Linked DNA regions of Homo sapiens. The protein of the gene in region 6 purifies or fractionates together with the protein of the main gene of each other region. This does not show direct contact. Each region holds a gene or a part of one and is shown on either strand. Other genes may lie near its edges.

Region 1 (3,500 bases), on a different chromosome or scaffold from region 6:
ATTTCCACATACAAAAGAATGAAATTGGATACAAAAAGCAACACAAAATGTATCAAAGACCTAATTGGAAAAGCCAAAATGATAAAACTCTTAGAAAAAATATGCATAGATTTTGACTCTGGATTAGACAATGTTTTTTAAGATACGATACCAAAAGTACAGACAAGAAAAATAAAAAATAGATAACCCAGAGTCCATCAAATTTAAAACTTAGTGCTTCAAAGGACATTATCAAGAAAGCAAAAATTCACAAAATGATAGTAAATATTTGAAACCATATATCTTAAAGGGACCCCTATCCGGAAAATATAAAGAACTTTTACTCAATAATAAGAAGGGCCAGGTGTGGTGACTCACAACTGTAATCCTAGCACTCTGGGAGGCTGAGGAGGGAGGATTGCTTGAGCCCAGGAGTTTGAGACCCCGTCTCTATAAAAAAATTTAAAAACTAGCCAGGCATAGTGGCTCATACCTGTAGTCCCTGCTACTTGGGAGGCTGAGGTGGGAGGATTGCCTGAGTCCAGGAGTTTGAGGCTGCAGTCAACTATGATCCCACCACTGCACCCTAGCCTGGGTGACAGAGGGAGACCTTGCCTCTAAAACATAAAAAATAAATAAATAAACAAGCCAATTAAAAAATGGGCAAAGGATTTGAAAAGACATTTACTCAAAGAATATATACATACAAACGAATCTTACAAATACGATGTTGAATAAATGAAGCCAGATGCAAAAGAATATACACAGTATGATTCCATTTATATGAAGTTGTAGAACAGGCAAAACTAATCTACGTTAAATCAAATGGTTTCCTTTATGGAGAGTGGAGGGCCATGGGGATGATCTCCTAGAGTGCTGGTAATGTTTTATTTCTTTTTTATTTTCCTTTTTTTTTTTTTTTTGAGATGGAGTCTTACACTGTCGCCCAGGCTGGAGTGCAATGGTGTTATCTCGGCTCACTGAAACCTCTGCCTCCCAAGTTCACGAGATTCTCCTGCCTCAGCCTCCCTAGTAGCTGGGATTACAGGCACACACCGCCACACCTGGCTAGTTTTTTTTTTTTTTTGTATTTTTAATAGAGACGAGGTTTCACTATGTTGGCCAGGCTGGTCTTGAACTCCTGACCTCGTGATCCGCCTGCCTCAGCCTCCCAAAGTGCTAGGATTACAGGAGTGAGACACCGCACCTGGCCAATGTTTTATTTCTTGACCTGCATGATGTTTACAAGCTGTGTTCCTTCTATGATAACTCATTAGGCTTTACATTGTGATTTGCATACTTTCTGAGTGTTAGTTATGCTTCCTATAAGAAGTTTATTGTCCCTGCAATATGGGGGACAATGGAAAAATGTCTAATTATCTTACCTTGTTCCTATCTTTTACGTGTATAAGCACCAGTATCAGGTGTTTAGTCTAGTGGCTCAATCATTCCAAGTAATAGTACTATAGTCTAAGAAGAAAGAATTTAAGACCTATGAATACAGTTTCTATGAATGAAGATAAATTCCAAAGAGGAAAGGAAGACTTTCCAGAATTGATTCATTTGATTCTGTTGACAGAAAACAACATCAACCCTTTCTTTTATGAAAGCGGCTGACATTTAAAGAATATGTGGTGATGATCTCCTCTTCCCATTCGACACATGTTCAGTAGTTATCAATAATACTAGTTACTAAGATATGTTTTAGTAATTATTGTATTAATAAAGTATGAATACTGTTAACAGTTTAGGGTTCCTGTTTAATTAGAACCAAAAAATTTCTTTGTTTAAAGCCCTCTGTTTAGCCAAGAAATCAACTTGAGTTATTAGCAATAAACTCTGACACCTCAGGGTTGGAACCTGCCAAATTTTTCTACTTTATCTAGTCAGATGCTTTGCTTAGTAGGCTTGCTTTGTGTCTTATATTTCTGTCTGGGTATTAATATAAGTGCCATTAGAATACTTAGACTTGCTATATAGAACCTGCTGATTTTAACTATAATCTTTAGCTGATAAACTTTTCATTTTCATTTTTTAAATGAAACAGGAATATCCAACCATAAGATCTGCAACTAAATTTTTATTATTACACCTTTTTCTTGGAAGAAAATCAGCATCTGAAATATATAATGTATGACTTCAAGTGGAGCACTGTAATCCACAAGCAGACTCAGATTTGGGCACTTCAGGTGAGTCACATATGGAACACAGCATTCTTTGCAAAAATTAATCTTTTGGCCCCATTCAATGTGGTTATTTTTGGCCAGGCACAGTGGCTCACGCCTGTAATCCCAGCACTTTGGGAGGCCAAGACTGGTGGATTACCTGAGGTCAGGAGTTCAAGGCCATCCTGGCCAGCATGGCAAAACCCTGTCTCTACTAAAAATACAAAAATTAGCCGGGCATGGTGGCGTGCGCCTGTAATCCCAGCTACTTGGGAACAAAGCTTGTTTGTTTGTTTGAGCAGAGTCTCCCACTGTCACCCAGGCTGGAGTGCAGTGGTGTGATCTCTGCTGACTGCAACCTCCGTCTCCCATGGGCAAGCAATTCTCGTGCCTCAGCCTCCTCAGTAGCTGGGATTACAGGTGTGCACCACCATGCCCAGCTAGTTTTTCTGTTTTTAGTAGAAATGGGGTTTCACCATGTTGGCCTCAAGTGATCCGCCTGCCTTCGCCTCCCAAAGTGAAGCTACTGTACTCAGTCCCCATTCAAAGTGTTTTATTCATTAAAGATAATGAATAATAAATGAATTAATACTATCTAAAATGTATTGAGTACTTATTATGGGCCAGACACTATGCTAGACACTTTATCTCATCTTATTTTCACAATGCTACACCATAAATACTACTATTATCCCCATTTTACAGATAAGACAATGTCATCTCAGAAAAGTTAGGTCAATTACCTAAGATCACGCAGTAAGCTAGGATTCAAACCTAAATCCAGCTGAATTCTGAGCTCCTGCTCTTATCTGCCTTGTAGAGACTAATTATTAGGAACACGTTCTAATACAGCACTGTCCAACAGGGCTTTCTGCAATGATGGAAATGTCCTTTATCTGTGCTAATATGGTAGCCACTACACCCATGGCTATTGAGCACTTGAAATGTGGCTAATGTACCCAATACTGAAGTTTTAATTTTTTTGAAATTTTAATTAATTTTTTTTTGAGACGGAGTCTTGCTCTGTCTCCCAGACAGGAGCGCAATGGCGTGATCTCTGCTCACTGCAAGCTCCGCCTCCCAGGTTCACACCATTCTCCTGCCTCAGCCTCCCGAGTAGCTGGGACTACAGGAGCCCGCCACCACGCCTGGCTAATTTTTTGTATTTTTAGTAGAGATGGGGTTTCACCATGTTAGCCAGGATGGTCTCGATCTCCGGACCTCATGATCCACCCGCCTCGGCCTCCCAAAGTGCTGGGATTACAGGCGTGAGCCACCATGCCCGGCTTTTTTATTTTTATTTTTTTTTTGAGATAGGGTCTCGCTCTGTTGCCCAGGCTGGAGTGCAGCTGCGTC
Region 2 (3,500 bases), on a different chromosome or scaffold from region 6:
ATTTCATTCAGATATTTAAAAATATAAATATTGTTTTCAATTTCCCACAAGATTCACCACAATGAAAATCAGCCTATATTTTCAGTTTTAATTATATCACCTCTCTTCCTTCTGTTTAGACCAGCAATTTCAAATCCTCTCTCCCCCAGCTTTCAAGAAGTACACATATAGTATATATTTATTTTTAAGTTAAAGTGATTTAATGCAGTTGTTAAAAAAAGGGGTGGGGGAGAGATCCATTAATCCATTAAACTCTATGGATTAATGTAGAATGTATTTCTAGGATATATTGTGTGAATAAAGCAAAACGACAAAACAGCATGTATAGTTTGCTTCTTTTTGTGTAAGAAAGGGGGAAATAAGACTATGTATTTGGATTTGCAGAAAGAAACACTGAAAGGATATATTAGAAACTAATAAAACTAAGCCGGGTGCAATGGTGCATGCTTGTACATAGCGAGACCTCATCTCTACAAAAAAAAAAACAGAAAGAAAGAAAAAAGTAATTAATAAAACTGGATGTGGGGATAATAGAATAGAAGAGGATGTAGGTAGGAGAAAGACTTTTAAAAATATGTAAATAATAGGCCGGATGCGGTAGCTCACACCTGTAATCCCAGCACTTTGGGAGGCCAAGGCAGGCGGATCACAAAGTCAGGAGCTTGAAACCATCCTGGCCAACATGGTGAAACCCTGTCTCTATTAAAAATACGACAATTAGCTGGGTATGGTGGCGTGCACCTGTAGTCCCAGCTACCTGGCAGGCCGAGGCAGGAGAATCGCTTGAACCCGGGACACAGAGGCTGCAGTGAGCTGAGATCGCACCACTGCAATCCAGCCTGGCAACAGAGTGAGATTCCGTCTAAAAAAAAAAAAAACAGTAAATAATAGAGATAAAGTCTTCCTATGTTGGCCAGGTTGGTCTTGAAGTCTCAGCCTCAAGCAATCTTCCTGCCTCAGCCTTCCAAAGTGGTAGGATTACAAGTGTGAGCCACCTCACCCAGCTAAGACTTTTAAATAAATATCTTTCTGCTGGGCACAGTGGTTCACGTCTGTAATCCCAGCACTTTGGAAGGCCGAGGTGGGCAGATCACGAGGTCAGGAGTTTGAGACCAGCCTGGCCAATATGGTGAAACCCCATCTCTACTAAAAATACAAAAATCAGCCAGGCATGATGGTGCAGCTACTTGGGAGGCTGAGGCAGAATTGCTTGAACCCAGGAGGCAGAGGTTGCAGTGAGCCGAGATTTTGCCACTGCACTCCAGGCTGGGCAACAGAGCAAGACTCCCTCTCAGGAAATAAATAAATAAATAAATAAATAAATAAATAAATAAATAAATAAATAGATTTTTGTTTTGAACCATGTGACTGTGTTATATATTCAAAATTATTTAATGAAAGGGAATTAAAATTTATCTTGGATGGAAGAAAAAGGCATGTGACTGGTAATACTATGAGGTGTTATAAATTTAGTGGCTGTGGATCATGAACCCCTGGTTCGTAACAATTTGGCTTATTCAAGACTTAATCATTTCCTGGCCATTAGAATGAATTTGATCAAAGCATAGAAAGGGACTTGATATCTGACCAGTCAGGACAGAATGGAGTGTGAGTAGATAAAAAACAGGAATAAATATCTCCCTCCACTTCTTTCCCCGCAGCAGCCAGACTAAGACAGGTATGTGTAGCAATGGCCGAATTATAAGGAGAAGCCTCTTCTTCCTTTCTCTTTACCCAAAGGCTCAGATTTTGATGGGGCTGGAGCCCTGCTGTGTAAAACCCAGGCTGGGGTCTCTTTTCTCTGGGGCAACCTGAACAAAACAGAGCATGTAAGTTGCTTGCTGTTAATTGCCAGGAAAACACTACAAGATGTATTTAACAGCCAGTCTACAGTTTTAACAGAAACTGTCCACATGAGATATTTCTCAGGACAGCTAGCTTCTTATACAGTAACTCCAGATGGAAACTGTCTTGGCAAAATTGTTCTTTCAAAGACCCAAGGGTAAGCATAAGATACAGTGAACCCTAAGCATTGGGAAGAAAAAAGCAAAAGATTGAATGGTGCTTTTTAAGTCTTAATATATTTCTCTCCAAAACAGTGATTCACTATGAAAAAGTCCACTTTCAAAGCATCAGTATTTTAAGAAAACTTATAAATAAATGTTACCTAAATAAAAGTAGATTTGAAATATACACATATTCATTTAAAAAGTGAGTTACAAAAACAAAACAAAACAAAACCCCAAACAACCAAAGAAAAGTAGAAAGAGGAGTAGGAAGAAGGAAAGGTCACCTCATCTTTAGAGAGTTTCCAGTCATCATTAAGATCCATTTCTTGGAATGATTCATGGGATCTTGGTCCATTTCGAATCTCCAGGAGATCAATATTAAATATCAGTGTACTTTCTGGGGGAATTTTACCTGACGTGAGGAAAGAAGGCAGAAAGTTTTAAAAGAGCCAAAAGTTTTAATAATAGAAAATTTATGGTAATGGACAAAGTATTTTTTTTAACTGAATTAAAGAGCCTTCCTAAGATTGTCATATATGATGAAAATTATGTATATTATATTTTACTCGAATAGAATAGAGTAAAAGAAGAAATAATATACACTAGCAGAGCAAAAGCATTCTATCTTTGGCTTAGCAATTAAAATGTAAATACACATACACACAATGCATATACATACATAGAGATGTACCTAATGGCTTAGGTATTACATTTCTAATATAATTAATATATTACATATTATATGTCAAGAAGGACTTGAAGGGTTTTAGATAATTCGGAGTTAAGTATATTAAAAGTAATAAACTAACTTTTTGGTCAGAAAGTCCTGACCTAGAAATACATACAGTATTGCCATTTCTACCACTAGAAGGCATTTCTACCCATATAATTGAGTAAGCTCTGGTGTCACACTGTCTGAGGCTGAAGTTTACATTTGCCCATCTCTAAGCCTCAATTTCCTCATCTATAAAATGCAGATAATAAATTTCCTCCTCAGGAGTCTGTTGGGAGGATAAAGGGAGAAAAATCCATGCAAAATACTTAGCATTAAACTTGACAAATAGTAAACTCTCAATACATGTTATTGAGGTATAATTTTCTCACAGGCTTTAAAAATAATGCAGGAAGGTTTAACAATTTCAGAAAGTTAGGAAACACTACCTCTGATATAGAACATTATATATATGTTGAAGACATTTCATGGGAGGGGAGAAATTAAAATGAATTTCTGAGAAGGGAAATTAAAAATCTTTAAAAGTGAAAAGAGCTTTGTTAAAATCCCAGGAACCTGAAACAAACAAACAAACAAACAAACACACCCATCTGTGGAGTATGGACAATTGTTTTTCTCAAACTTGTTTCCTTATAACTATATTTAACATACAGGTCTGTGTAAACATGTTAAATATTTCTTAGTCATCCTCCCCCCATCCCACATATTTCCATGAAAGAACATTCATAAATTCCAAAGAGAAGACTTATAAAGTGTGC
Region 3 (4,266 bases), on a different chromosome or scaffold from region 6:
GAGCGACAAGGTCAGGGGTTGGGGGATGAATACTTAGAGCACATTGATCCTTGGGGCAGAGGCAGTGCTGGAGAAGGTGGTCTCCAGAGGCCAGACAGCTAACTCCAAGAGCCCCCTTCCCACTGGCAGACAAGTTCAGCTGCCGGTTCTTTCAAACACTGGTGCAAACATACCTTAGCTGGAGAGTTCAAAGAAGAGCAAGAGGGGGGAAAATAAAGGAAGGTGAGAAGCAGCAAGGCAGAAGGAAGCCCATCTCCTGAGCTTGTCACAGGCGCCAAAGGAGGGCAAATTAGAGTCCTTGTGAAGTGATGGTTCCCATGCAGCCCTGACAGTGAAACTACAAATCCAGAGACAGATGGGAGGGATAGAGAGATGGAGCTCAGGATAGCAGCAGAGGCAAATCTTCACTCCCCGTTTCCACCCTTCCCCAACTGACCCTGAGCATGGGCCTCATGTAGCCGCCTCAGCTGGTTGGGAAGGAAGTCTGGGACAGGGAAGCTGCGACCAGGGCGTGTGGCTGTTTCCCCCACACAGCGTTGCCGGCACTGCAGGACCTGAATCCAGTGTCCTGCAGAGGAAACCCATAAGCCATTCAGCTTGTTCATGCCCCTCCCTGGGCACCGACCCACCCCCTCACACACGGGACCCTTACCTGCAATGGCCTCATAGAGGCCCCCCTGGCTCGCAGCCCCATCCTCCTCTTCTTCAGCCCCCTGCTGCTCCTCAGGCCCCTCACAGTCAGCACGGCAGCTCTCCATCTGGGCCAGGCTCCCCTGAAGAGCCTCCTCTAGCCTGGGCAGTGCCAGTCCTGCCTCCTGGCGCCCCAGTAGCTCCAGGCCAGTGTCATAGGCTGCCTGTTGGGGAAGGGAGCAGTCAGTCACCTAAGATCCAGGGGTTGCCAAACTGGGAGGTAGAGAGGAGAGGGGTGTTGGTCTCATTTGGGGCAAGGACTCCATGTCCCTCTTCACCGTGGAGAAGAATAAGGGTGGGCCTCAGAATCATAATGTTAGAACATCAGATTTCAGTGATCATCCAGGAAGGAAACGAAGTCCTAGAGAAGGACTCCCAGCCAGGGTCGCTGAGGATCATTACCCCATCTGTATGCTCAAGCAGCACAACGCACAGTTTAGTGAGGCCTGTGTATCCAGCCAGGAAAAGGCTGGTGGCAAGACAGGGGTGGTGCTGGGATTCTCACCCAGTGTGGGGGCGTCTCCAGGTCCCGGAAGCTCTGGGGCCGAACTCCCGACATTCGTCTGTACTTAGCCATGTCCTCCCGCATCTGCAGGTGCATGGGGTTTGCTACAAAGAAGGTGTGTGCTGCCGCAGCTGCCAGATCCAGCTTCTTCAACTGAGGAGGCGAAGGGAGGAGGGCATCAGAGCCCTGGGACGGGGGGCAGACCTCTGCCCCCTGGCCAGCCTCCCCACCCTACCCCAGACACACACTCTGGGTGCCCCAGAGCCTCATGGAAGACTGGCCAATCAGAACCGCCCACCGCCCGAACTGCAGATCCCCTAGAGGCCAGAACGTTGGGACTCTCAGAAGGCTGGCACCGAGGGAAAGGGGATCTAAAGACGTCGGAGTTGGGTGGGACATGGGTCTCAGGACTTCAGGACCTCAATTTGGGAGACCAGGTGGAAGTGATGGCTTAAGTGAGGTGGGGAAGTGGGGGAGACCTCAGCGACCAGCAAAACCCGCAGGTCTCTAGGACCCTGAGCTGAGGTGAGTACAACCGGCGCCCCGCTTCCCCAGCCACGTAGGCAACTGCTGCGGTACCGGCGGCTGCGGCGTGCTGTCCCCTCCCCGCCCGCAGAGGTCTGGCCTCGGAGGACCCCAACCTTGCCTCCGTCTGCTCCTTCCTTTCCGAAGCTACCTCCTGCCCCAAGCGAAGGTTCACACTCACCACCACCCCCGACACACACACACACCCACGCACACTTCCCGTCCGAGAGCCGGTTTCGCCCCCACCGCCTCCGCTTCATTCCTAGGAAGAGGCGGCCCTGTCCCTCCATCTTCGATCTGCTCCCGTCCCACCTCACGACCTCCCCGCCCCATTCCCATTCTGCTCGCACTCCCCCTCGGCTGCTCCTCTGCGATCTCAAGAGGTCCTCGCGGTCGCTTAGCCAGCTCCTACGCAGAGGCCCGCGGTACGCTCCCCAGCCCCGTGCGGGGCCCGGGCAACAGCATTCCGCCTACTCCTGGGCAACGCAAAGTAGGACAGCGTCGTGGTGAGGGCTGGGACCCTCGGAGCTGCCCGGCCCGCTCCCCACCTGGTAATAGGCCCTCTGCAGGTAGTTGTAGGGCTCCCGACGGCGGAAGGCGTCCCGGAGCGCGCTCCCCACGCGAAGCCGCGCCGCGCCCCCGGGGCCCAGCCTCCGTGCTGCGCACTGGGTCAGGCAGTCTGCGCGGCGGAGCGCTGCACGGAGAAGCTGTCGCTCCCAGGACCCCTGCGTGGGTCCCGGCCCGGAGTCGGGCTCCGGGGCCCCGAGAAGCACGGCGGGGAGCGCGGCGCCCGGATCGGCCGCGCAGCTCGCCCCGCAATCCAGCCGCACCCGGCCCAGCGCCGCCTGGCTCCGCAGCGCCTCCCGCAGCAGCGCCACGGCCGGCGCCCAAGCCCCGGCCGCGTAGGCGCGCAGCCCGTCAGCGTAGAGCAAGTCGGGGGCCTGCGGGGGCGCCCCCGGGGACAGCTGGGTCAGGCCGGGGGGCTCAGGGGACCCCGGGGGAGGCAGCAGCAGCAGTAGCAGCAGCGGCCGGAGGAGCCGGAGCATGATGTCGGAGCCGCCGGCAGCCGAGGGGAAATGCGGGAGCCGAGAGGGAGGGAGAGGAAAGGGGGGAAGGGGAGGGAGGGGGAGGAAGGAGAGATGGAGAGGCGGAGGGAGAGGGAGAAATAATGAGGGAGGCCGAGAGAGAGAGAGAGAGAGAAGATGGGGCTGAGACCCGATGGTGGGAGAGGCCCATGTGAAAAGATGGAGAGAGAAGAGTGCTGAGTGGACAAAGCTGGTCTAGTGTGGAATAAGAGGGAGAAACTGGGAGGAGGAGGGCAAAAGGCGGGAACTGGAGCAGGCCTGGGCATCCATGAAGGATGACTTCAGCCCCAGCGGTGACTTCAGCCCCTGAGGTCTGGGGGTAACTACTGGGGCTGTGTTCCCTCCACACACACGCTTCTGGGTCCAGAAAAAGGAGTGTGGACGCCGATCCCCCCCTCGCCCCCCCCCACCCCCCCACACTCATCCACCCCTGCACTCCCACCCCCCCACACTCATCCACCCCTGCACTCCCACCCCCCCCACACACTCATCCACCCCTGCACTCCCCCACACACACACTCATCCACCCCTGCACTCCCACCCCCGCCCACACACACACTCATCCACCCCTGCACTCCTTTGGAGAAAGAGCTTTAAAATGCAGCAAGGAGGAGGTGTCCAGGCCCGGGACACTGCATCAGCCCCAAAACCTTTCCTGCCCATAAAGTGAGCCCCTGCATGGATTTGAGGTTAGAAGGAGAGTTGGGCACTGGGGCTGGAGCCACGCTCTAAAACCACCTCAACAAATCTGAACAGAGATCCTTCATACCCCAACCAACGAAGATGTGTGTCCTCAAGCCCCGCCCCCAGCAGGATATGCTCCTCCCAGCCTTCCCTGTGCGAGGCTGCCTGGTGGAGCATGTGATCATTTCTCCATGTGTCCTTCTGTGCCTCTGTCTGCTGCCCCTGCTCTGTCGTGTCCCCTGTGAGCCACTCCACCCTCCAAGCCCCTTTCCACCGCAGTACACTGGACACTGAGGTTTCCATGGCAACACTTCAGACTTTAATACATATTGCTAGGGGTGATGGAAGCTGAGTAGGGCATCTGGTCACTTGGATGGGAGAGAGCAGGGCCTTCTGAGCCCCAAATCTAGCGCCCGTCTCCCCAGAGTCTGGAGGCAGCTGCCCTACTCTCGGCCAGAATGAGGTGTTACTCACTCAGGCTTTCTCCTCTGAGTTCAGCAGGCCTGCTTGGGCTCACAGGGTCAGCTGGGGAAAGATGGGGTTGCCTGGGCCCCAGGATCCTCCCCAAGCCCTTGCACTTTCTTCACCCCCCGTCAGGGAGCAGCGTCTCCCTGCGCTTAGTCCCAAAGGAAGTCCAACGGCTCTGCTCTCAGGGGACCCAAGGGAGAGTCGGCGGGGTGAGAGGCCCAGTGGCCGGGGCCGACGAGGAGAGTGCCCTGGTGAGGCAGTCGGAGAAGGCAGAGGTGTCTCATCGATGAAGGTGGTGATCTCCTCCCG
Region 4 (3,500 bases), on a different chromosome or scaffold from region 6:
CAGATCATTTGAGGTCAGGAGTTCAAGACCAGCCTGGCCAACATGGTGAAACCCCATCTCTACTAAAAATACAAAAATTAACCGGCTGTGGTGGTGGCCGCCCGTAATCCCATCTACTTAGGAGGCTGAGGCAGGAGAATCACTTGAACCCGGGAGGCAGAGGTTGCAGTGAGCCAAAATCGCGCCACTGCACTCCAGCCTAGGCGACAGAACAAAGCTCTGTCTTAAAAAAAAACAAACAAAAAACAAATAAAAGCTAACCCTATTCCCAGCATTGAGCACAGAGCCTGGCCCAGAGCCGGGATGTAGTATCTGGCTGTTAGAGACTGAATTCCTTCAAACCATTGACCAATTAACAACGGCTGTCGCTTGAAGTAGGGCTAGCAAATTAAAAATAACAGAATGCTTTTGTTTCCTCTTGTGTTTTCCCCTCCAATTGTTTCACCTTCACTCACTTTTTGCACTTGGTAAGATTTCTTCTTGCATGTCTGCACACTGCAGACTTCTCCAGCACAAAACAAAGAATTACAACATCCTCCTTACCGGCTGCCACTGATTACTTGATTAAATCGTCACCTCTAATTTACCCTGAGCACCTGCAAAGTTCTTCTCCATGCACCAGATAGTCTTCAGGGTCGGAATTACATATTCTCTGCAGCCTTCTCAAGAGCTTCACTCCAACATCAGTGTCTCCACCCCTCCCTCTCATCCTCAGGACTGGATTTTTTTTTTTTTTTAAGACAGAGTCTCGCTCTGTCGCCCAGGCTGGAGTGCAGTGGCGCGATCTCGGCTCACTGCAAGCTCTGCCTCCTGCGTTCACACCATTCTCCTGCCTCAGCCTCCCGAGTAGCTGGGACTATAGGCACCCGCCACCATGCCTGGCTAATTTTTCGTATTTTTAGTAGAGACGGGGTTTCACCGTCTTAAGATGGTCTCAATCTCTTGACCTCGTGATCCACCTGCCTCGGCCTCCCAAAGTGCTTAGATTACAGGCGTGAGCCACCGCACCTGGCCAGGACTGGATTTATTCCATCCAAACCCAAACACTTTCTTACTCTCTGTTTTTTTTCAGACAGGGTCTCATCTTGTGTTGCCCAAGGTGGAGTACAGTGGCATGATCACAGTTTACTGCAGTCTCTACCTCCTGGGCTCAAGCGATCCTCCTGCCTCAGCCTCCCAGGAAGCTGGGACTACAGGCGTGGGCCAACACGCCAAGTTAATTTTTAAATTTTTTTGTAGAGATGGGATCTCGCAGCCGGGGGCGGTGGCTCACGCCTGTAATTGTAGCACTTTGGGAGGCTGCGGGGGCAGATCACTTGAGCCCAGGAGTTCAAGACCAGCCTGGGCAACACGGCAAAACCCCATCTCTACAAAAAATACAAAAATTAGCTGGGCATGGTGGTGTGCACCTGTGGTCCCAGCTACGTGGGAGGCTGAGGTGGGGGAGGTCAACACTGTAGTGAGCTGAGATTGTGCCACTGCACTCTAGCCTGGGAGCCACAGAGCAAGACTCCGTCTCAAAAAAAAAAAAAAAAAAAAAAGGCTGGGCTGGGCTCAGTGGCCCATGCCTGTAATCTCAGCACTTTGGGAGGCTGAGGCGGGCAGATCACCTGAGGTCAGGAGTTCGAGACGAGGCTGACCAACACGGAGAAACCCCGTCTCTACTAAAAACACAAAATTACCCAGGCGTGGCAGTGCATGCCTGTAATCCCAGCTACTCGGGAGGCTGAGGCAGGAGAACTGCTTGAACCCGGAAGGCAGAGGTTGCAGTGAGCCAAGATCACGCCATTGCACTCCAGCCTGGGCAACAAGAGCAAAACTCCATCTCAAAAAAAAAAAAAGGGCAGAAAAGAGATGAGGTCTTGCTATGTTGTCCAGGCTGGTCTCGAACTCCTGAGCTCAAGTGATTTCCCCTCCAGCCTCAGCTTCCCAAGACTTTGAGATTAGGGTCTGAGTCACCTTGCCTGGCCATACCCAAACTCTTTCTAGTAACTTTCATCTTGGCTGGGCGCGGTGGCTCACGCCTGTAATCCCAGCACTTTGGGAGGCCGAGGCGGGCAGATCACGAGGTCAGGAGATCGAGACCATCCTGGTTAACACGGTGAAACCCCATCTCTACTACAAATACAAAAATTAGCCGGGCGTGGTGGTGGGCGCCTGTAGTCCCAGCTACTCGGGAGGCTGAGGCAGGAGAATGGCTTGAACCCGGGAGGCGGAGCTTGCAGTGAGCCAAGATCGGCCACTGCACTCCAGCCTGGGCGACAGAGTGAGACTCTGTCCCAAAAACAACAACAACAACAACAACAAAAAACCTTTCATCTTAAAAGTAACCACTGGCTGGGCGGGTGGCTCACACCTGTAATGCCAGTACTTTGGGAGGCCGAGGCGGGTGGATCACCTGAGCTCAGGAGTTTTGAGACCAGCCTGACCAACATGGCAAAACCCCGTCTCTACTAAAAATACAAAAATTAGCTGGGTGTGGTGGCGGGTGCCTGTAATCCCAGCTACTCGGGAAGCTGAGGCAGGAAATCATTTGAACCCGGGAGGCAGAGTTTGCAGTGAGCCGAGATCACACCAAAAAAAAAAAAAAAGAGAGAGAAAAGAAAACTCATGACCCAAAGTTGTAACTCATGGGTTAACAGGATGAAATGCAGAGTAGGGAAGGGCATGGTAAGCAGCTGGAATAGCATGTGCAAATGTGCAGAGGCCTCCAAGGAATGCTAAAGGAGGGCTGGTCCTCACCAGCAGCCTGGCAGGCATAGGCGAAGACGATGATGTCGTCGAAAGGCCAAGTGTAGTTGGGATGTGGCGGGTAGAAAGCAAGCTGGTCTGCCCCTTCAGCCCGCAGGGATGCAAGGAAGGTGGAGTGGACCATGGGGACACGGAAGCAGCCCCGGCGCTGGCGGTTCTTGGTGGGGAAGTACTCGGCTGTGCGGCGGTAGTAGCCCTGGGGAAAAGGGATGCTTTGGGCTGTGAGAGGGCTCCCCTGCCCCTGCCCACAGACCCCAAGGCCTCAGGCTCTCTGCTCTCCACGTCCCTCCTTCCAGGACCTCAGTCCACCCAAGGCCCCCATCCCGGCCTCACCTGGGGGGTGATCCCACACCAGAAGTTGGAGTAGTAGGTCTGGGAGTCCAGCATTGGGGCCACCACTGGAAGCCCCTGCCCCATGAGAAGCCGCAGAGTCTGATTGTTGGTCAGAATGTTGTCTGTGTCTGCAAACTTTGAGGAGGGGACGTCACAGGCTCCAGCCCTGCCTGGGCTGCAGCCCCCCAAGGAGTTCACTGAGTGGTCCTGCCAGAGACCCAGCGTGGCTCCTAGGATCCAGTGGGAATGCTCTTACAGAGGTCTCACAAACTCAGTACATCTGTTTCTGGACCAAGGCTCTAGTCTGGGGCACTGACTCAGGGACTGGGTCCAGAGATTATACCTGAGTTACTGATCTAAGACCTTTATCTGGGATCTGGCTTAGAAAATGGATCCAAACACCTACTCTGAGCTCT
Region 5 (3,362 bases), on a different chromosome or scaffold from region 6:
CTGCAGGGCCTCTGTGCACAGCCTGCCCAATTTTGGGAGCTGGGTTGCACCTGCTGTGTAGCACCTGCCCACACTCCTTTGGCAGTTCAGGTATCCAGCCTTCTGGCCTGTGCTGTGGGACAGTTCTGGGACCCCTGGGCTGGTCCTGGTCTTACCTGTCAGTCAGTGCCAGTTCCTGCAAAATAAATGTAAACAAAGGCAAGAGGTGAGATCTGAATGCGTGCCGACGCCCTCATTCAATTGTGGTTTGAGTGGAGTTGGTGCCAAGGTGGTCCTACCTACCCTCTAGTTTGCTGGGCCCTAGCATGCTGTTGACACAAGGGGAAGTCCCCTGTGTCTGGGTGAGTCGCATGGGCCAGCCACCCCCCCACTGCCACTGGGAATTGCTGGGAGCCCCTGTCCTGTGAACGGATGCCCTCTTGCTTTGATAAGCTGCCTGGTGGCTGTTGTTTAAATCTAGACTTCCCATCCAGCCCTCGCACAACTCCTATGCCTTCTGACAAGTTTCAGTAAAAACCACAGGAGTTCAAGAAAGATTATGACTCCTGTTCCGTTACTTTTTGTGATCTCCTTAGATTGCTTCTCCCAGATGGTAGGAGCTGCCCCTTTTGGAGTCTATTGAAGGAGGTGCCCTGGTGGCCACACTGGGCTGGAGGGGATCTGAGGACCCATGTCCACCGGAGAAAACCACGAATGTACCTGAAGCTCTGCTTCTGGCCACTGAACATAGGAAGCCTGCTGCTCAGGGCCCAGGTGCTGTGGGTCAAAGGAAACACAGACACGTTTCATAAATCTTTCTTTTATTCCAAGTTTCAAGTATGTGTAAGTGTCTGTGATGACACATGGTGCTCAGTGAGCGCCCTGTCACCCAGGACCCTGGTTATAGCACCGTTGAATCAAAAACCCACAGAATTGGAACAACAGGAAGATGAGTCACTTACACAGTGGGTTGGTTTTTCCTTAGATTTGTACTTCCAAGGGCCCAGATGTCCAATATTAAATGCCAATAAATTTGTGCTTCAAAAGTCTGTGAAAATATAATAATAGTATCTTGAAAAACAAGGGGTGGGGGCTGTGGATAGGGAAGCACCAAGTCTGAGCTCACCAAATCAGAAAACACGTGGCACCATTATCTATGTGACTATAATAGACTGGAGGGTTTCATTGGAAGAGAGGTCTAGATATTCAAGTTTGCTGAAAATGACCTAAGAGGAGGAGAAATGGGGTTCGGCCTGACCCTCTCTGGGGGGGCTGATGAGCCCGCATTTGTCCACGTGTCACTGGAGAAGAGCGCGGCTCCACTGTGTCTGTGGTGAGCTCGGTGGCTTGAATGGGACAAGCTGATGACAACCTGTCTGTGGGCCTCATCCCGGTCAAGACTGGCTCTTGGTGCTGCTCCAGCAGCTCTGTGGACAAACCCCACCCCCGCAAGGCCTTCTCAGGCCCCAAGGGTCAGGTAGCAGCCCCCCATGAATGATGGGAGGGTCCCTTTCCTCCTGAGCTTAGACACAGCTGTAGGGGTCTGGACAGGGTGGGGGCCGGGCTGGGTGAGGGCACGTGGCATTCGTTCAGACTCAGTTGTTGGGGGGAAGTCCCATGGAAGATGTGGTGTGGCCTGAAGACAGGAGTTGACCACGCAGGCTTCTTTACTGCGGGGACAGCTGGTTGTTTAAGAGCCCGCTGAAGTGCTCAAACTTTTTTTCCGTCTCTTCGCTGAAGGAACCACCTGAAGAGCGAGAATCGGGTAGAGAGAGTGGACAAATGAGATGCTCGGGCCTTGCCTGACCCTGAGCCAGGGGAGTGGGCCTCAGGGGCTGCTGGGGCCACCTGTGTGTGCCCTCCTCAAAAGGACAGGTGCCAGGCACTGGCCATCTCTAGGGCTGGGCACATAGCAGGTGCTCTGTCAAAGTTGAGTGAACGAGTGAATAAATATAGCGCCTTTAATTTTAACCTTTTGCCAAGAGTGAGGCCCATGACTTTTCCTGCAGAGGAAAAAGCTCTGCCTTCCCTTTTGTTCCCCAAGTCCTATCATCCAAGGAAAAAAGTGTCTTTATTGGAGACTAGAAATAACAGTAGTTTGCTAGCTTCCAGCTCTCGACAGAAAAACCTGATAGGCAGAGCCCACAGATTGCTGATGCCCACATTTTTGAGGTCACATACATAATGAGCCAGTGGCCTCAGCTCCAACCCTTAAAAAGCCTTGGGGTCTGCACTGGGCTGGCCTGGTCCTGTACCATCCTCTATCCGTGGCCGGAGCTGGCTGTAAAAACTCAGTCTCCATCCAGGCCTGTGTGTCTGTGGCTTCTGTCCTGAATGTGGAAATGTGATGCTGGCTGCATTCCCCGAGCTCTTTACCCAAATTAGGAAGCTGCCTCTGGGTCCTTGAGAAAGTAGGGCAGCTCCCGCCTGCTTCCTGGAGTGGGGGCGGCCTGGCCTTACCTATGTGGCAGTTGTACATCCAGATGCGGTGGCCGTCATAGCGGCTCCTGCATTTCATGATGTTGTTGGAGTAATCGGATTCTGCAACCTCGAAGTTGGGGTTAATAACAACCTAGGGAGAAGCAGGGCAGAGGAGGCTGCTTGTTCCCTCTGCGGCCACCTCCACCCAGGCCTGGGGCTCTGAGAGACCAGCACCTCAGGGAAGGGGAGCGTGGCAGGTGCCGGGACCCAAGACGGGGGTCTGTGGGTCTCAACAAAGTCCTTGGGGAGGGGAAGAGATGAGTCAGGGAGCAGAGGAAGCATGGCCTGGAAGAGGGAAACCCTGCCCTCTGTCCATATCCGTGTAACACACACCCCTCTACCCAGGGTGGGCCTTCGGAAGGGGGTCACCCACTCCTGGGAGTTCTGGGGAAGGCAGAAGTTGGGGTCTGGGGAGGCCCCAAAAAGAAGATGCTGAAGAGAAGCAGAAGGGTGCAGGGAGGACCTGGCGGTGTGGGAACCTGGAAGAGGGCTGCCTGGGCGTTGGAGATGGGACACTCGTCACAGGCGTGTGACTGTGGACATGTCCCTTCCTCTCTCTGTAAAGTGACAGGTGGGACTTGGGGATCCATGTCCCTGTCTGCTCTGCTGGCCGAGGGCCTGGCTCTGGGGCTGCTGGAGAAGTTGCACCCTCTCCCCATCCTTCCACCCACCCCTGTATCCGCATCCCCCCAGCTACAGCAGGAATAGGAAGGACATATTCTGGGAGAGTGTCTGTGAGGGAACAGAAAAGGGGAGGTTTACGGTGAGGACCCGAGGAGAAAAGAGAAAGGGAGGGAGAGGGAGAAGAGACAACAGTGGTGAACAGAGGGGCAGAGGACACAGATGACAGGCCTTCCCTCGAGGGTCCTGCCACATTTGGAAGGGCTGCGACCCACAGCAGG
Region 6 (2,410 bases):
AAGAAGCACTGCCTTCCGAATTTTTAGTCGAAACCAGTAGGATAGGTAGAAAAAGATAAACTAAGGCTCATGAAGACACTAAGCCAAGACCACTAAACAGGCAAATTTCCAGTTGGAACCCCAAGAACCCACTAATTTGCTTCCTTTACCTTGTTGCTATTGCATATATGGTTTCCCTAAGCCTACCTAATTGGTCAGCCCACTTCCTCTTTCTTTCTGGGGAGTCTCTGTACTGTAACTGCAGGGCAAGCTGAGAGACATACCACTGCCCAGAAAAGTGTGTCTATGGTCAAGTGCAACTCACCATCTACCCTCAAGAATTCAACTCCCTAATAAAACCCACACCACAGCTGCCTTGGCCCTCACATGGGGAGGAACAGGTTGGATACTTTAAGGGGGCACACCTGTACCACGGTATCAAGCTCTGTTAAATGGCTCCTTTTATTTTAAGGCAGCACCAAGCGGTCCCAAACCAGCAGCAAGAATTGCACACACGATAATGGCAAATTTAATGTGATTTATTCATATAATAACTCATGCTGCACTTAACACAATACAAACTTATGTTTTTCAATAGTGTAGAAGATGTGAATTCATAAAAGCTGTAAGTTAATGAGTACTGAATAAAAATCACCTGCAAAAGGTTCTTTCAGAAACACACCCAAAACTACAATAAATTAGGGCAAGGGGTTTGTAAATGGCAGCTTCAGTCCTACTCCAAACCTTCTCACCCATATAAATCATAGTCCCTGACTTTTATAGAGGAAAAACCAAAAGCAGTTAACCCCTGGCCTTTGCTCCTCTCCTTGTCCACGTCCCAACTCTTGTTTCCTAGCATGTGCTGAATACACTACTAGACCTTGAGCTTTTGTTCCTCATTGGCAGTGGGAGCCCTCTTGCCTGGGCCGTCACATTACTCAGAGCCAAGTACCTGAGGGTTGGCTCCCAGCCACCTCATCTGGAACCAACTTGTCGGTTTGTTCTCTCCCACCCAAACTCTTCCCCCATCAGAGGATAAGGACTATCACCTAGAATCCAGAATCAAACAAGGGCATCCTTTGGTGATTAGCACCATACATGACAGTGATGTCAGGCAGGGCATGGAGTAATAGCCGGGAAACTCTGATCCCAAAGAAAACCCTTGAGCGTGGGCTCCCCACAACAGACTGTGTTTTATCAGACACTCAGAGGAAAGTGGCATCTGTCCCATCAGGTGAGTTAGTGGACAGGGACACCAACGGGAGCTTTCAGTAACATGTGGAAAGGCAAGACCCAAGAGCAGTGAGGGCTCTTGGCCATTATGGCCAAACGATTGGTGATGTGAAGGCAACAACTGACAGTCCTCTCTGCTTGAAGTTCTCATGTGCAGAAGAGAGAAACTGTCCTGAAGTACCAGGGGACCACTGAGTGCAGTGGGGCTGATGGCAGGTTCCACCACAACGGGCTATGCCTAAGGCCCCAAGGGACACCCTGGGTTCTACTTTAATCCCAGATCCCAGGCCAGAATTCAAGAGATTCCTCTGAAGAGCTATAACCTGCAGGATGGACTTGGGAAAGGAAAAGGGGCTGAGCCTCTATTTGGGAGTTTATACCCAAAGCGCTTCACACAGTAAGGTATGGACAGCTTGGGAACCTGACAGGCGGCAAAAGATTGGGCAGAGAGGGAAGAGTCAGTTTCCCTCTGTAGCTAGGGTGAGGCTGCTCCAGAGTCACTTGGTTACCTCCCAGCACAAACCCCAACATCTTAAGTGATTAAAGATTAATGTAGGTTGGGTGTATACCCAAAACAATTAAGAGCAGGGACTCGAACAGATATTTGTACATCCTTGTTGACAGCAACATTATTGCAATGGCCAAAAGGTAGAAATGACCCAAGTGGTCACTGGTGGATGAATGGATAAGCGGAACGTGGTACATACATTTCAGTCCAAAAAAAAAAATTAATGAAGCAGGGCTGTGCAGCCATTACAGCTGTTAATCAAGAACTGTCAATGACATAAAAAACCAAGCTAACATTGTGTTAGATCAAAAAAACAAGATATAGATTATATGTGGTAGTCTGCATGTATGTAAAGCTAAATATGTCCATATCTGCATATATGTCTTTAGGCAGGTAAAAGAATGAAAGGAAATATACAAATGTCAGCAGTGGGTATGTCTCAAATGCTGGGCTTCTTTTCATCTCCAGTTTTCACATGTTCCAGATTTTATGCAATGAGCATATATTACTCTGATAATGGGGTGGAGAGACACAGTAAGCATAAAACCAAACCCCAAACAATGCAAAGGAAAATGAATATTTATTCAATGTCCAGATTGGGGAGGGGTCTGTGTGTTTAACAGGAAAAGATACAGAAAAAAACCTATCACACAGGAAAAGATAAATATGTTTGATTATTTTAAAAGGTGA
Region 7 (3,500 bases), on a different chromosome or scaffold from region 6:
CCAGGAGATCAAAAATCCAGCCTGGGCAACATAGTGAGATCTCCATCTCGAAAAAACAAAACCCTAGAATATAGTTTATGGTGATTTCATATTCACAGTAGGTAAAAGACTATGCAATAGCAAAACACTGTCACCTACGTTAGTGTCTAAAACAGTAACAGATGACAGTGAAAGATTTAACAAGTTAGAACCATTATTTCACTTTTTTTATATCCTGTTATGAATACTCAGTATATATATAAAACATCTTACCTTAAGAAGATTTGTCAAGTAATTCTTCAAAAATTCCTTAAGTCGTTTATATAATTCCAGGCCAACAAACTGAGCTCCTCCAGGTGTCTGCCCCTTTTTCGACTTAGAAGGAGGAACTCCAGCTCCTCGTGCTTGGTTTGACTGGTGAACACTAGTACAGTAGTTATAAACATGACTTGGAGAAAAGTTAAGGAAACCAACATATATCACAGACGTTAACGGTCATTAACATAAACATATTTTCTTATATTTCATTACCAATGCATTCCCAATATATCAACCAAAACCTGTTAAAAACTAGAATGGAACAAAGATCCCATTCACACTATCCATAAAGCTAAAAGTCAACAAGCCCCATTCACAAGGTTGTTGGTAGGCCTTGAGAGCAACACCGCCAAGGTGGAGAAGGGAACATTCCAGGAGGGAGGTTGCCTATAAAAAAATCTGGACCTTTTAGATTATCTGATGTGACTGACCTTGTGGAAAACTGTCCCAAAAGAAAAATGCAATTACTGACTCCAGGAAAAACAAAAAGCTAACAATAAGCACTGTCTATTATGATGCTCAGCTGTAACTTTTTCAGAGGCACAGATTCTAAATATTGAAATAACACAAACTTTATTTTAAAATGACTCAGAGAGCCAAGTCCTTATATTACAATAGTCATAGCCATCTAAAACTTATCAGTGAACGGCAGCAGTGTCCACACACTCCTGAGAAAGAGAGAGATGTATAAACCACAGCACAGACAGCTGATTGCAAAACAGCTGCATCTGCAGGGGGAGCGCAGAGAATGAGAAGATGGGGCCAGGCAGGGCAGAAAACCACCGTGTTCTGTTGTATCCTTTAAATATGATGAGCTTATCTGCATGTATTATTAATTGAATAAAATGAACGGAAAGATACTTATACTCAGAAAGATCAACAAAACAGAACAAAACAATATTCTGGTATAATTAAGAATTTACTATATAAAGATACTTCAAGACAACGGGTAAAAGATAGATTATCTAATAAATGGCATGAGGGCAAGATATTTCTAAATATTCCATGTTATATTCCAAAATATATTACAAATGGATTAAGATTTAAAATATACAAGCTAAAACAGTAAAACCAAGAATATATATGTGAACGCTTATCTGTTCTCAGGCTGGAGCGGCCCTTTCTAAGTAAGATCACACAAAAAAATGAATTCAGGCTGGGCGCGGTGGCTCGCGCCTGTAATCCCAGCACTCTGGGAGGCCGAGACAGGTGGATCACAAGGTCAGGAGATTGAGACCATCCTGGCTAACACGGTGAAACCCCATCTCTACTAAAAACACACACAAAAAATTAGCCGGGCGTGGTGGCAGGCGCCTGTAGTCCCAGCTACTCGGGAGGCTGAGGCAGGAGAATGGCATGAACCCGGGAGGCGGAGCTTGCAGCGAGCTGAGATCATGCCACTGCACTCCAGCCTGGGCGACAGAGCAAGACTCTGTCTCAAAAAATAAATAAATAAATTCAAAATTGTAGATTAAGATGAAATACCTTAAACTATCTTTAATAAATTAAGGTAATTTAAAGCAATTAAAAAAATGAATCTCTATGGAAACATGAACAAAATATACCACAGAAAATCTAAAAGGTAAAATAAATATATACTAATGCCCCCAAACCTAATAAAATAACCAATCTAGGTAATAATCAAAGAACTATACTTTAAAACAATGAAAAATTATTAACTATTTCAATTGTATAGAGAATCACAGATTACAATAAACAACTACTGTATACTCATGACCCAGTTTTGATAGATCTTACTGCATTCCCACACTTGTCTCATATTCCACCTACAGCCTCCCTCAACTTTTGAGAAAATAAAATATTACAGGTTATAAGTGAAGCACTATATTCTCCCTCTTTCATCCCACTCCTTCCTCTTACCCTAGCAAATAGCACCATGATTTGGTATATATCATTCCTATGTTTTTATATTTTGCTGGATAAATGTGTATCAAATATATTTCACATGTTCTACATTTTGTTTTGTTTTTTTTGAGATGGAGTTTCACTCTTGTTGCCCAGACTGGAGTGCAATGGCGTGATCTCAGCTCACAACCTCTACCTCCTGGGTTCAAGCGATTCTCCTGCCTCAGCCTCCCGAGTAGCTGTGGTTACAGGCAGGCGCCACCACGCCTGGCTAATTTTGTATGTTTAGTAGACATGAGGTTTCTCCATGTAGGTCAGGCTGGTCTCAAACTCCCAACTTCAGGCTATCCAGCCTCCTCGGCCTCCCAAACTGCTGGGATTACAGGCGTGAGCCACCGCGTCTGGCCATGTTCTACATTTTTAAATTATACAAACTGTAATATGTACATTTGCTCTGCCATTTGTTTTTGATGGTATCTGACATAGCCGCAGCTGTAATATACTGTGTAACGCACATTTACAATACTTCATCAACTCTCTTGGTGGTGGACCTTGCTAATAGTCCTTTTGGCAGATACCTATTTTTTGTGTATTTACAAAGCTGCAAAGAATAAAACTAGCAGGTCTCCTTGAGTACAAGTTTCTTGGAGCACAGAAATACTAAGTGACAAAGTGACAAGAGAGGTTTTTTTTTTTTTTTTTTTTGAGACAGAGTCTCACTCTGTCTCCCAGGCTGTAGTGCAGTGATGTAATCTCGGCTCACTGCAACCTCTGCCTCCCGGGATCAAGCGATTCTCCTGAGTAGATGTGATTACGGGCGCCTGCCACCATTCCTGGCTAATTTTTGTATTTTTAGTAGAGACAGGGTTTCACCATATTGGTCAGGTTGGTCTTGAACTCCTGACCTCAGGCAATCCACCTGCCTCGACCTCCCAAAGTTGCTAGGATTACAGATGTGAGCCACCTTGCCAGGCCCTTTTAAACAATTTTTTGTAGAGATGGGGTCTTGCTATGTTGCCCTGGCTGGTCCAAAATTCTTGGGCTCAAGCAATCCTCCTGTTTGGCCTCCCAAAGTGGTGGGTTTAACTTTATTAAGAGTTGCCAACTTAGTGCTACAAAGCGGCTATCCAGCACCCTGTAGTGCATGAGTTTTCATCGACCACAACCTTGGCCTTGCATTCATACTGTGGTTTATTATGGTTTTAATATCCATTTCTAGGGCATAGACAGTTTTGTTTTGTTTTTTTTTTTTTTTAAAGAGACAGGATCTCACTATGTTGCCCAGGCTGGAGAGCAGTGGCTATTCACAGACATGATCATAGCAGGCTACTGCCTCA

What was found.
Region 1: the proteins of IDS (region 6) and AP3M1 purify together in Homo sapiens (affinity purification with mass spectrometry; 2 studies listed by BioGRID and IntAct, with this or other methods). This does not show direct contact.
Region 2: the proteins of IDS (region 6) and FKBP14 purify together in Homo sapiens (affinity purification with mass spectrometry; 3 studies listed by BioGRID and IntAct, with this or other methods). This does not show direct contact.
Region 3: the proteins of IDS (region 6) and P3H3 purify together in Homo sapiens (affinity purification with mass spectrometry; 3 studies listed by BioGRID and IntAct, with this or other methods). This does not show direct contact.
Region 4: the proteins of IDS (region 6) and CERCAM purify together in Homo sapiens (affinity purification with mass spectrometry; 3 studies listed by BioGRID and IntAct, with this or other methods). This does not show direct contact.
Region 5: the proteins of IDS (region 6) and LOXL2 purify together in Homo sapiens (affinity purification with mass spectrometry; 2 studies listed by BioGRID and IntAct, with this or other methods). This does not show direct contact.
Region 7: the proteins of IDS (region 6) and CUL1 purify together in Homo sapiens (affinity purification with mass spectrometry; 3 studies listed by BioGRID and IntAct, with this or other methods). This does not show direct contact.

What each region holds. Positions count from the first base shown.
Region 1 is NC_000010.11:74,140,829-74,144,328, forward strand, and holds part of AP3M1 (AP-3 complex subunit mu-1), read right to left. Parts: intron 1-3,500. UniProt on the Homo sapiens protein: Part of the AP-3 complex, an adaptor-related complex which is not clathrin-associated. The complex is associated with the Golgi region as well as more peripheral structures.
Region 2 is NC_000007.14:30,016,703-30,020,202, forward strand, and holds part of FKBP14 (peptidyl-prolyl cis-trans isomerase FKBP14 precursor), read right to left. Parts: intron 2,422-3,500; coding exon 2,294-2,421; intron 1-2,293. UniProt on the Homo sapiens protein: PPIase which accelerates the folding of proteins during protein synthesis. Has a preference for substrates containing 4-hydroxylproline modifications, including type III collagen. May also target type VI and type X collagens.
Region 3 is NC_000012.12:6,826,941-6,831,206, reverse strand, and holds the start of P3H3 (prolyl 3-hydroxylase 3 precursor), read right to left. Parts: upstream 2,801-4,266; 5' UTR 2,767-2,800; coding exon 2,269-2,766; intron 1,349-2,268; coding exon 1,196-1,348; intron 855-1,195; coding exon 653-854; intron 569-652; coding exon 437-568; intron 1-436. Other genes in the region: GPR162 (probable G-protein coupled receptor 162), read right to left, coding at 4,003-4,266. UniProt on the Homo sapiens protein: Part of a complex composed of PLOD1, P3H3 and P3H4 that catalyzes hydroxylation of lysine residues in collagen alpha chains and is required for normal assembly and cross-linkling of collagen fibrils.
Region 4 is NC_000009.12:128,423,857-128,427,356, reverse strand, and holds part of CERCAM (inactive glycosyltransferase 25 family member 3 isoform a precursor), read right to left. Parts: intron 3,220-3,500; coding exon 3,085-3,219; intron 2,948-3,084; coding exon 2,743-2,947; intron 1-2,742. UniProt on the Homo sapiens protein: Probable cell adhesion protein involved in leukocyte transmigration across the blood-brain barrier. Does not express any beta-galactosyltransferase activity in vitro.
Region 5 is NC_000008.11:23,296,397-23,299,758, forward strand, and holds the end of LOXL2 (lysyl oxidase homolog 2 precursor), read right to left. Parts: intron 2,552-3,362; coding exon 2,440-2,551; intron 1,727-2,439; coding exon 1,647-1,726; 3' UTR 501-1,646; downstream 1-500. UniProt on the Homo sapiens protein: Mediates the post-translational oxidative deamination of lysine residues on target proteins leading to the formation of deaminated lysine (allysine).
Region 6 is NC_000023.11:149,476,488-149,478,897, forward strand, and holds the end of IDS (iduronate 2-sulfatase isoform a preproprotein), read right to left. Parts: 3' UTR 501-2,410; downstream 1-500. UniProt on the Homo sapiens protein: Lysosomal enzyme involved in the degradation pathway of dermatan sulfate and heparan sulfate.
Region 7 is NC_000007.14:148,750,903-148,754,402, reverse strand, and holds part of CUL1 (cullin-1), read right to left. Parts: intron 428-3,500; coding exon 253-427; intron 1-252. UniProt on the Homo sapiens protein: Core component of multiple cullin-RING-based SCF (SKP1-CUL1-F-box protein) E3 ubiquitin-protein ligase complexes, which mediate the ubiquitination of proteins involved in cell cycle progression, signal transduction and transcription.